Linked DNA regions of Homo sapiens: regions 2, 3 and 4 are each linked to region 1. Evidence: fine-mapped expression QTL. A gene starts in region 1. Each other region holds a variant in brackets. All regions are shown on one strand. Distances are from middle to middle.

Region 1 (2,685 bases):
TAACTGTCCATTTTTAGTTTCATTCATTGCACAAGTGCTTATTGAGCAAGGGATTTTAAGGTGATAAGAGACACACAAACACAGAAGCCCATCCCTGTCCTTAAAGAGCTCCCAATTTGACATAATTTAAATATTCATCTCCAAAGGAATTTAGAGAACCTATCCCAAATCCCAGGTTCCTCTTGGATACAGCATTTTAATCGTCAACACCCAAATCTTGTGATAGAAAAGGGCGGGCACACCAATAACTTGGAAACAACATTTATTTTTAGAATGAGTGCAGTGGCTCAGGCTTGTAATCCCAGCACTTTGGGAGGCTGAGGCGGGAAGATCGGTTGAGTCCAAGAGGTTGAAATCAGCAAGGGCAACATAGCGAGACCCCCATCTCTACAAAAAATAATAATAATTAACTAGGCGTGGTGATTAGCCCCCTGTAGTTCCAGCTACTCAGGAGGCCAAGGTGAGAGGATCCCTTGAGCCCGGGAGTTCGAGGCTGCAGTGAGCTATGATGGCCACTGCACTCTAGCCTAGGTGACAGGGCAAGACCCTGTCTCAAAAAACAAACACAAACAAAAACCCTTATTTTCAAAAATTATGAATTTTGTAAATCTCAGGATTTACATCCCTCTGTTTTTAGTTTTGCAATCCACATAAAACCAAGACAAAACAAAAGCTCTGAGAACTCACCTACTCAAGGTCGCCTTGGCTGCAATTCAGATCACCCGAAAATCCCAAAGCCCAGGCTGCACTTCAGACCAATTAAGTCGGGAAACATCCCAAAGCCCAAGTGCACCTCAGACCAATTAAGTCGGGAATCCAGGCACCCTCAGGTGATTCGAATGTGTAGCCAAGGTTGACAACAACCGCTATAAATCATTCTGCCCTTGAAACGGGAGAACCAGGATCTACATTTTTCAAGAACCAGGATCTATGGCACCGTCACCCTCGTCCCTACACACAGGCCACCAGCAATGTTCCCAGATGCAGTTTTGTGTTTCACGCGGTCAAGAACAGAATCCAATCCTCTCCCACTTGGACAAGTGAGGATGGAGGAAGGTTAATCTAACCCGCCCCGGCCCTGGTCAATATCGCATCCGTGCGGAAGCAGACGCTGGCTCGGCTTTGCGGGCCGCAGAGAAGCCCCCGGACGCCTCTCTCTCCTCCACCTGCTGGGTTCCTGGCTTCGGAATGGGGAGTTGCGGGGGTGGAAAAGAGGAAAGCCCAGCGCCGGGGGACAGGATCGCCATAGGAACGAGCACAGGCTGTCCCCCGAAAGACCGAGACAAAGAGGCGCCCCCCGCCCGAACAAACCGGCGGTACTCACGCAAGTGCCACCCAGCTTGTGGCTCTCCACCACGGCGGCCCTGGCACCCAGCTCGGCCGCCCTGCGCGCGCTGGCCAGCCCGCCCGAGCCGCCCCCGATCACCAGGTAGTCATAGGAGGCCACGGCGCCAGCAGCGGGCGGCGGGCCCTGCGGCTGCGGCTCCTGCCTGCAGGCCATGGCACGGGAGAGGGCGCGCGTGAGGGCCGCGGGCTCGGGCAGAAGCAGCAGGAAGCCTCGGAAGGCGCGCGCCGCCCGCCGCCAGCTCGGTCCCGCGCCGGCGCTCAGGGCTCGGGGCAGCAGGGCCATGCACGCGGAAGTGGCGCGCCAAGTGGGGCGGGCGGCCCGGGGGCGGTCCCCGGGGTAGGGGGGCGCGGGCCCCGGGCAAGCGCAGCCTCACGGTGACTAAGCATGCGCCCGCCGCTAGGCAAGACCCAGGAGGATGCCCAGAGGCGGGGCCGCCTCCCAGTTCCCCGCCCCGGTGGCGGAGCCTGAGGGGTTTCTCCGCCTCCGTTCTCACCCCGGCCCCTGGATCCCGAGCGGCGCCTGCCGCGTGTAGCCTTCTGAAGTCCGGTGGATCGAGGCGAGGAACGGTGAACGTCCTCTCGTTTCAGCTGGCTTTTCCCGAGCTGGCCCCCTGGGGAGTTGCCAGTGGCACGGCTTCTCCAGGAAGAGAAATTTGCCTCTATTCGAAGGGTTGTTTGTCCAGGTTTGTTCCAGAGACCACTTTTGTTTGTTCTTGCTTTTTCTTTGAGACTGGGTCTCACTCTCCCCCAGGCAGGGGTGCAGTGATGCGATCTCTGCTCACTGCAGCCTCCACCTACTGTGCTCAAGCAGCGATCCTCCCTCCTCAGCCTTCCCGGTAGCTGGGAACTACAGGTGCCCGCCACAGCGCCCAGCTAATTTATTTATTTATTTATTTAATTTTTTTTTTTATTTTTTTTATTATTTTTATTTTTTTTTTAGAAATAGGGTCTCACTATGTTACCAGGACTGGTAGGGAACTCTTGGCCTCAAGCGATTCTCTCACCTCGGCCTCCCAAAATGCTAGGATTATGGTATGAGGTCACCACTTCTCCTGTTGTCCTTCTCAGTTTCTCCCCAACCTCCCCTTTTCCCTAGTTTATAAGACAGGAGAAAAGGGAGAAAGCAAAAAGTTGGAAAGAAACAGAAGTAAGATAAATAGCTAGACGACCTTGGCACCACCACCTGGCCCTGGTGGCTAAGATAATAATAATATTATTAACCCCTGACCAAAACTATTGGTGTTATCTGTAAATTCCAGACATTGTATGAGAAAGCACTGTAAAACTTTTTGTTCTGTTAGCTGATGTATATAGCCCCCAGTCACGTTTCCCACGCTT
Region 2 (2,685 bases), 240 kb before region 1:
AACTAACTTGTGCCTTAAGCCCCAAGTTCTTGGTTGGAAGGAGGTTGCAAGCCATTTGATGGTGTGTGTTAGAGGTGTTTTAAAAAATAGGGTTAAGGAGCAAATTTACCCACTTTGCTTATTTCTGTACTTTTATGAAATTCATCAGTGACATCTCCCCCAACCCTATTGATTAATTTAGTATATGGTATTAGTAAATGATGTTGAGGACCAGTAAATAATGTATTGGTATAAATGGCTCATTTTTATCCTTAGTGAAATAAAGGATATAAAACCATTGACTTATAAAATTATTTGTATTTTTTAAATGTACTACAGCTTTTTCTTTCTAAAAATTTGTTGTCAAGTTGTACAGTTTGAAAATTAGTAGCTAGATCAAGATAGTGATTATCTTTGGGGGAGGGGGAAGAAAACAAGAAAATGCACGTTTTCTACTTGCTCTTGGTATTTCATTTCATTAACATTACCTAAACTTGGTTGGGCACACACAGGGTGGGAGGTTTCACTGGATCCTGTTGGGGGCTGGGGGGCTGATTGCTAAAATACTGGAGAGCAGAAACAGGATTGTGAAAATATACTTGGAGGCCTATTGCGGTCTATGTCTGATCTTTAAATAGAAATCTTCTCAAAATGGTTTTGGAAAGTTTAGGCAACTGTTTTTTTTCAATTGTAGAGTTTGTTTATGTCAGTACTGTTTTCTCTCCTCCTCCTACCTCTTTTTTTCTTCTGCACCAGCCACTAATAAAAGCTCAAAGTAAACTTTGCAGAACGATCCTTAAAACATATACAGAAAGTTAAGATAGGTCCTCAAATGACCTAACAAGCACTTAAGGTGAAGCTAAAAGAAGAGCTCGTTAAATGCATTCTCTTAGCCTGCCTACCTCACAAGTAGGACTTATTCTTCATGTGCTTTTCCATGTAGACACAGACACCCCCACCCCTCCCCCAATGGAGTTTCGCTCTTGTCGCCCAGGCTGGAGTGCAATGGCACAATCTCGGCTCACTGCAATCTCCGGCCTCCACGATTCAGGCAATTCTTCTGCCTCAGCCTCCTGAGTAGCTGGGATTACAGGCGTGCAGCACCACGTCTGGCTAATTTTTGTATTTTTATTAGAGATAGGGTTTCACCATGGTTGTCAGGCTGGTCTCGAACTCCTGACCTCAGGTGATCCACCTGCCCCGGCCTCCCAAAGTGCTGACATTACAGGTGTGAGCCACTGCGCCCAGCCGACACACTTGTTTTTTAAAATAATTCTCTGAGACTTTTTATATTACACAGTGTTAATTATTCAACTTATCTTTGAGTGCATAAAGCACTTTCACACATGCATGCATCCATTGTCTCATTTTGCCTGATAAGTGCATAATATGTATTAGATGC[A/G]AAAGTAGGTTGATCTCCTTTTCAGTAATTAGAAGATTAATGTGTAATTATGTATAATTAGTCCTTTCTTTAAAGAGCTGACACCACGCTTGTCAACACCAGTAACCCTTTGACTTAAAAAAAAAATACCCCTTTTATCTTTAAAGGATCTAGATCGTCATCTGCTAATTGGATATGAAATTAGTAAGTATTTCAAAACCCATCCCTTCCAAGTTTAATCCTGGGTTTTGTACTTGGCAGAAGCTGTATGGGCACATATGTGGCCCTTATGAATGAAAGTGATTCTCTCAATTTGCAATCACTAGGAAAAAAAAATACAAGCTACTTTTAAAGTTGTTATTGATAATGAATTTGCACATAAACCCCCCTACTTTTTCACTGGATTCACTATGTAACCAAAGGGGTGTGTATTTTCTAGACTGGCCTGTTTCAGTAATATAGACTGGCTTCTTTAAGAATAAGGTTGTGATTTCTTTTGTCCATTTTATTGTTGTTTTCTTTTTTTCTTACTCTTTTTTTCCTTTTTGGTGCCAAATTCACTGATTTAAGCCTATGATCTGAGCTTTACAGAGATGAATCACATAATCGGGAAATCATTTACATGTTCACATTGACAGGGCATGGTTTCTATGCCACATTTCTGAAATTTTTGATGTGACACCCATAAGGCTTTAGTCAAATACAAGGACGTGCTTTGTTGAGGCAAACCCACTGTTGATTTCCCAAGTCAGTGAAGTTGGCCATTAAAATTCTGAAGTTTCTTTGGTGTCACTTGACAGTGACCGACATCAGACTGGAATGTCTTGGGCCAACATTAAGCCAATATGGACCATTAAAAATTTGTTTATAGGTTTTCCCCAAATCACCCCAAGGTCTCTATCAGAGTTGAAAATTTAACTGAATTGAGAGCTATTGCCTAGGATCTGCTTCCTTTAAGCTTTCATTTTGAGTGCCTTCATTTAGCAGGTAGCAGGAGAAAAAGACATTGATGCAAAGGGGAAAGAATGTATGCCAATGGGTTTATTCATTATCCTTACAGTGAGACAGGAGAGGAAAAGGCAGTAAGGACTCTGCAATGAAAGGGACTACTGGCAGCACCAGCCACGTTTGGTGTTTGTGCATTAAGGATTCTAAGGGATGTTTTTATGCCTACCAGAGCAGTTGACCTGCTGCTTTACCTTCTGTTCACCTTCAGAGTTCTCGGTGTAAAAATGTGAGCATCAGGATTCCTGAGTAAGAGAGTACCATCTGCACTCTGGCCTATGTTTCTTTCCATGTAATATTATCTATTTCAAAGTGTCACT
Region 3 (2,685 bases), 29 kb before region 1:
AGTCCAGCCTGGGTGACAGAGCAAAAGACCCTATCTCAAAAGAAAAGAAAAATCCCTAATATCCCGTCACAGAAGGGAAATGTATTTTTCATTGTTTTTAAAGCTCTTTAGCCTCATTTCTTCAGAGAGGAAAAAACTCTGTGCAGAGACAATATCTCCCTATGTTGCCCAGGCTGGTCTCGAACTCCTAGGCTCAAGTGATCCTCCGGCCTGAGCCTCCCAAGTAGCCAAGACTACCAGCATGTGCCAACACACCCAGCTAATTTTTGTATTTTTTTTGCAGAGATCGGGTTGTGCTGTGTTGCCTAGGCTGGTTTCAAACTCCTGGGCTCAAGAAATTCGCTCGCCTCAGGCCTCCCAAAGTGCTGAGATTACAGGCATAAGCCACTGTGCCTGGCTTCTGGAACTGATCTTTCAGGCGGCTGAATCCCTAAAAGATTTCTCTTTACCTCGTTGCAGCCCCAGGACTACTCATGCACAGTATTCCACAAGGTTCATGCTCCATCCAAACAGAAGCCCCCTCAGTGCAAAAACTAAATCATGCTATCTTCCCTACATTATTTATGTACTTGCCCAGTTATTACTTATTCACCAACACCGTAACAAAGATAAAGTAGACTTGAAGAATCACGTATCAATCGTAAATTCATTTTCTTGTGTTTCAGAGCCTTTTGTTGATGACATGCATAAATGTAAATATTTAAAATTGCTAATGAACAGCTATTTATAATGAAACTTCTTTGAGGGTGAGTCCGGAATGAAATTACATTATCCAAACATAATGAGTCATGACTGTATGTCTCACTACATCCTCACATATGTCATGTCACTCAACCCTAAAATCAAACAATGCAGGGTGGATCACAGGGAAGGAAGGCTGTTCTCTAACACATTTCTGCGACCTGATAGCAAACCAAAAAAGATTGTATGGTTTTCTTAGAACTCCTCCAAGTCAGAAGCCTGCCTGGTCTGAGGTATCTTCAAGGGACATTTTCACCATCCTATGGAACTGCAAAGCAGCTCCCTGGTCCTTTCTGAACTGCCTCGTGCTGTCTGAACTGTCCATGACTCTGGGTGAATCAAAGTGAAGATAGGCTCATGGACTATGAGTCACTCTCCCTAAAAGCCCTTCTAAAAGCATAGGATTAGGACCTCAAACTGGATTAGCACAGCCCCTGAGGGAGCAGAAGAGTTGAGCAATGCAAACTCCACAGTGAGTGCCACTCAGAAGATGAATGAAGGCCAGTCCCTGCGCCAACACATTGGGTCCC[T/TCC]CCACCTGTTTCCAGGCATCACCTCTTCTCACAAGTGACAGGAGCATCCCTCTAAACTAGAAAGCCTGCAATGTACAGCAACTTCAAATCAGAGAAACAAACTTCCTCATGATCTTTTTGCCCCTCTATGAATCTAAATCCATTCAGCACGGTGGCCCATGCTTGTATTCCTACTGCTTTGAGAGGCCAAGGTGGGAGGATTGCTTGAGGCCAGGAATTCTAGACCAGCCTGGACAACAGAACGAGACCCCATCTCTACAAAAATTTAAATTAAAAAGTTAACCAGGTATGGTGGTGCACGTTTGTAGTCCCAGCTACTCGGGAGGCTGAGGTGAAAGGATTGCTTGAGCCCAAGAGCTCAAGGCTACCACAAGCCATGATGGCACCACTGCACTCCTGCCTGGGCGATGGAAGAAGACCCTGTCTCTAAAAAAAAAAATGTTTGTTCATTAAAAGAAAATCTGGCCAGGTGTGGTGGCTCACATCTGTAATTCCAGCACTTTGGGAGGCTGAGGCGGGCGGATCACCTGAGGTCAGGAGTTTGAGACCAGCCTGACCAACATGGAGAAAACCCACCTCTACTAAAAATACAAAATTAGCGGGGCGTGGTGGCACTCTCTCTCTCTTTCTTTCTTTCTTGGTGTGATCTTGTCTCACTGCAACTCCGCCTTGAGAATTCAAGTGATTCTCCTGCCTCAGCTTCCCGAGTAGCTGAGACTACAGGCCCACACCACCACACCCAGCTAATTTCCATAGTTTTAGTAGAGACAGGGTTTCACCATGTTGGCCAGGCTGGTCTCGAGCTCCTGACCTCAGGTGATCTGCCCGCTTCAGCCTCCCAAAGTGCTAGGATTACAGCCATGAGCCACCACATCTGGCCAAAACCAGCTATTCTATTCTAAAATACAAGCTACTTTAGACACATTCTTAATTGATGCTGTATTAAGTTGAAGAAAGAAGACAGTTTTAGGACTTTGCTATGCAGTCTTCAAATTACCCTGCATTTGACTTTGGCCTCTGATTGAAAGCATGAAAGATTTGAGGGATCTACTGAGGAGTTCTAGGAATGAGATATACAAGGTCATGAAAAGAGAAGCTGTAAGAGGAGGGAATTCAGGAAAGGCCTACATTAAATGCTTGGGAGGAGAAGACGAAGAAAAGTTACCAGGAGACAGTAAGGAAGAATGAGTCACTGAGGTCAGGTCAGGTTGGCTTACCCGGGCAATTCTTCCAGCTGAAAAAATCCATCGCTGGTTATTCCTAAGCTGGCACCTATGTAGAAAAAGGCAACATAGATCACACAAGACTGCTCTTTCTCTTGCAAAGTAATCACAACATTTTATGCCAAAAACCAAACACTTTCACAGCCAACATAGTCTCCGTTTTGACAAGTTTTGTTAAAGTCTCTGCTTGG
Region 4 (2,685 bases), 50 kb before region 1:
GCTAATTTTTTTGTATTTTTAGTAGAGACAGGGTTTCACCATGTTAGCCAGGATGGTCTCGATCTCATGACTTCGTGATCTGCCCACCTCGACCTCCCAAAGTGCTGGGATTGCAGGTGTGAGCCACCGCGCCCAGCATTTTTTTTTTTTTTTTTGAGATGGAGTCTCACACTATTGCCTGGGCTGGAGTGCAGTGGTGCCATCTTGGCTCACTGTGACCTGTGCCTCCTAGGTTCAAGCGATTCTCCTATCTCAGCCTCCTGAGTAGCTGGGATTACAGATGCCAGCCACCACGCCTAGCTAATTTTTGTATTTTTAGTAGAGATGGGGTTTCATCATGTTGGCCAGGCTGGTCTCGAACCCCTGACCTCAGGTGATCCACCTGTCTTGGCCTCCCAAAGTGCTGGGATTATAGGTGTGAGCTGCTATATATTTCTTGGCACTTTCAGTAATAGAGGCTGTTAAGCCACAACACCTCAAGGGCTGGGCCAGTTCAAGGACCGATGAGAATGCAGACAGGAACTCAGATAAGGGTACTGTACTTTCTTGTTGGTTTACTATGGAACCAGCACACAGGCAGGATAAATATGAGATTAAGAACACATGATGTTAAAATAGATGTGGCTACTAGGGCCTCCCATTTCCCTGACAGAGGCACACCTCAAGGCTGGGGCCTGTGCAGTGAGAAATCCACCAGCAGAATGAAGCCTAGAACCTTGGTCCACTGTCTTTTAGGCTAGGGGAAGAGGGGAGAAGTGCCTACATTAGTCCATGCCCAAGTTTGGGGATCCTATTTTCTTGTCCCACCACAATACATATAACTTCCTTGCTAATACAATATTTTTCTTTCATTGACATTGGGCCTACTTAAGAAGTCAGTGCAGGCCGGATGTGGTGGCTCACGCCTGTAATCTCAGCACTTTGGGAGGCCGAGGTGGGCAGATTACTTCTAAGGTCAGGAGTTCAAGACCAGCCTGGCCAACACGGTGAAAACCCATCTCTACTAAAAGTACAAGAATTAGCCAGGTGTGGTGGTGTGCACCTGTAGTCTCAGCTACTCAGGAGGCTGAGGCAGGAGAATCGCTTGACCCCGGGAGGCAGAGGCTGCAGTGAGCCGAGATCGTGCCACTGTACTCCAGCCTAGGCAACAGAGCCAGGCTTGGTTTCAAAAAAAAAAAAAAAAGTCAGTTCAGTAACTGGCCATCACTAACCAGAAAGACAGTCAGTAAAAGCTTAACAGAACACACAGTAAAGAATTCAGTGGGTCCAGTGCAGTGGCTCACGCCTGTAATCCCAGCACTTTGGGAGGCCAAGGCGGGCAGATCACGAGGTCAACAGATCAAGACCATCCTGGCCAACATGGTGAAACCCCATCTCTACTAAAAATACAAAAATTAGCTGGGTGTGGTGGCGCGTGCCTGTGATCCCAGCTACTCAGGAGGCTGAGGCAGGAGAACTGCTTGACCCCGGGAGGCTGCAGTGACCTGAGATCACACCACTGCACCCCAGCCTGGCGACAAAGCTAGACCCTGTCT[C/CAAA]AAAAAAAAAAAAAAAAGTATTCAGTAACACTGGATGACTAATGAAAATCCTGGAAAAATTTAACTAGCTGGTAAAACCTAATAGAAATAAAGTGTTAAAGACCTAAGTGATTTCTAGGCTTTTCTTCCAACTCAATCATTAATCTGCTAAATGTTTCTTTTATACCTTCGATCTTTATTTTTATACGAGAACTCTCTTTTCACCCCCGTAAGCACAGGCAACTGATTCTCCAATGTGAAATATCCTTAGAAAATAAACCAATTTCCTGTGTACCAATTAAAGCTCACAGTAACAAATTTTATAAGAAGAAAAGGCTGTAATTTTATTTTCAAATTTTTGGAAGTTTTTCAGAAAAAAATAAAATGACAAGAACACATACAAATATTGAAATTATTCATTGAACTATAAACACTTAGCAGAGGAAGGGACTTTTGATGTATTTGAATCCACCTCCTTCTGAAAGCAGGAATCACTTCTAAATGTCTCTCATATCTTTCTTCAAGGAGTGGTTTTCCAGGAGGTTCCCAGCCTCCTCAAATCTTTCCCAAGTTTGATGCACTTCACCTCATAAAAATAATATATATATATATATATATTTTTTTTTTTTTTTTTTGAGACAGGGTCTTGCTCTGTTGTCCAAGATTGAGTGCAGCAGCATGATCAGGACTCACTGCAGCCTCACCTCACCCAAGCTCAAGTGATCCTCTCACCTCAGCCTCCCAAGTAGCTGAGATTACAGATGCACATCACCACACTCGGGTAATTTTTTTTACTCTCTGTAGAGATGCAGTCTTGCTATGCTGTGCATGCTGGCCTCAAACTTGTAGGCTCAAGTAATCCTCCTGCCTCGGCCTCCCAAAGTGCTAGAATTACAGGCCTGAGCCACCGTGCCTTGCCACAAACTATTTTTAATCATTAAAAAAGAAAAAAGAAAATAAGGCAGGCCGGCTTCTCACATTACATGCTTTTAGAAAAAGGTCTCATCCTTGAAGCAGCTTTGTTATATGCAGAGCACAGTACTGGCTTCAAAAAATATATAAAGGTTCTGTGCACTGGCACTGTTTACATGTGAAGAATTGCCATCAACTTCTGTGAAAATTAGCAAGCTGGCACAGTGGCTCACGCCTGTAATCTCAGCACCTCAGGAGG

Direction of the effects. Positions count from the first base shown, and alleles are read on the strand shown. Sizes are in standard deviations (SD) of each study's normalised expression. Not every link is listed here.
In carriers of allele TCC in region 3, the expression in hypothalamus of the gene that starts at base 1,641 in region 1 tends to be lower than with T alone (small effect, 0.29 SD a copy in GTEx).
In carriers of allele CAAA in region 4, the expression in CD8 T cells of the gene that starts at base 1,641 in region 1 tends to be higher than with C alone (large effect, 0.75 SD a copy in CEDAR).

Evidence for each region. PIP is the estimated chance that this variant, and not a neighbour inherited with it, causes the effect. A credible set is the group of variants that fine-mapping cannot tell apart.
Region 2: its variant is the best candidate, but not a certain one, in a credible set for the expression of GSR in whole blood (TOPMed, PIP 0.87).
Region 3: its variant is the best candidate, but not a certain one, in a credible set for the expression of GSR in hypothalamus (GTEx, PIP 0.55).
Region 4: its variant is the best candidate, but not a certain one, in a credible set for the expression of GSR in CD8 T cells (CEDAR, PIP 0.79).

Annotation. Positions count from the first base shown.
Region 1 is chr8:30,726,206-30,728,890 of GRCh38, forward strand. It overlaps GSR (glutathione-disulfide reductase), which reads right to left and starts at 1,641. Exons shown (of 13, transcript NM_000637.5): 1 at 1,325-1,641. The coding sequence starts at 1,630. RefSeq lists an enhancer at 539-1,226 and silencers at 1,302-1,741, 1,812-1,901.
Region 2 is chr8:30,490,963-30,493,647 of GRCh38, forward strand. All of the region lies in intron 4 of RBPMS (RNA binding protein, mRNA processing factor), which reads left to right. Among named protein-coding and RNA genes, the nearest start is that of RBPMS-AS1, 110 kb to the left of the region's middle. The variant A/G (reference allele first, on the strand shown) is at 1,382.
Region 3 is chr8:30,697,593-30,700,277 of GRCh38, forward strand. It overlaps GSR (glutathione-disulfide reductase), which reads right to left. Exons shown (of 13, transcript NM_000637.5): 6 at 2,489-2,543. Among named protein-coding and RNA genes, the nearest start is that of GSR, 29 kb to the right of the region's middle. The variant T/TCC (reference allele first, on the strand shown) is at 1,272.
Region 4 is chr8:30,676,229-30,678,913 of GRCh38, forward strand. GSR (glutathione-disulfide reductase) reads right to left here. Exons shown (of 13, transcript NM_000637.5): 13 at 1,838-2,685. Among named protein-coding and RNA genes, the nearest start is that of GTF2E2, 19 kb to the left of the region's middle. The variant C/CAAA (reference allele first, on the strand shown) is at 1,536.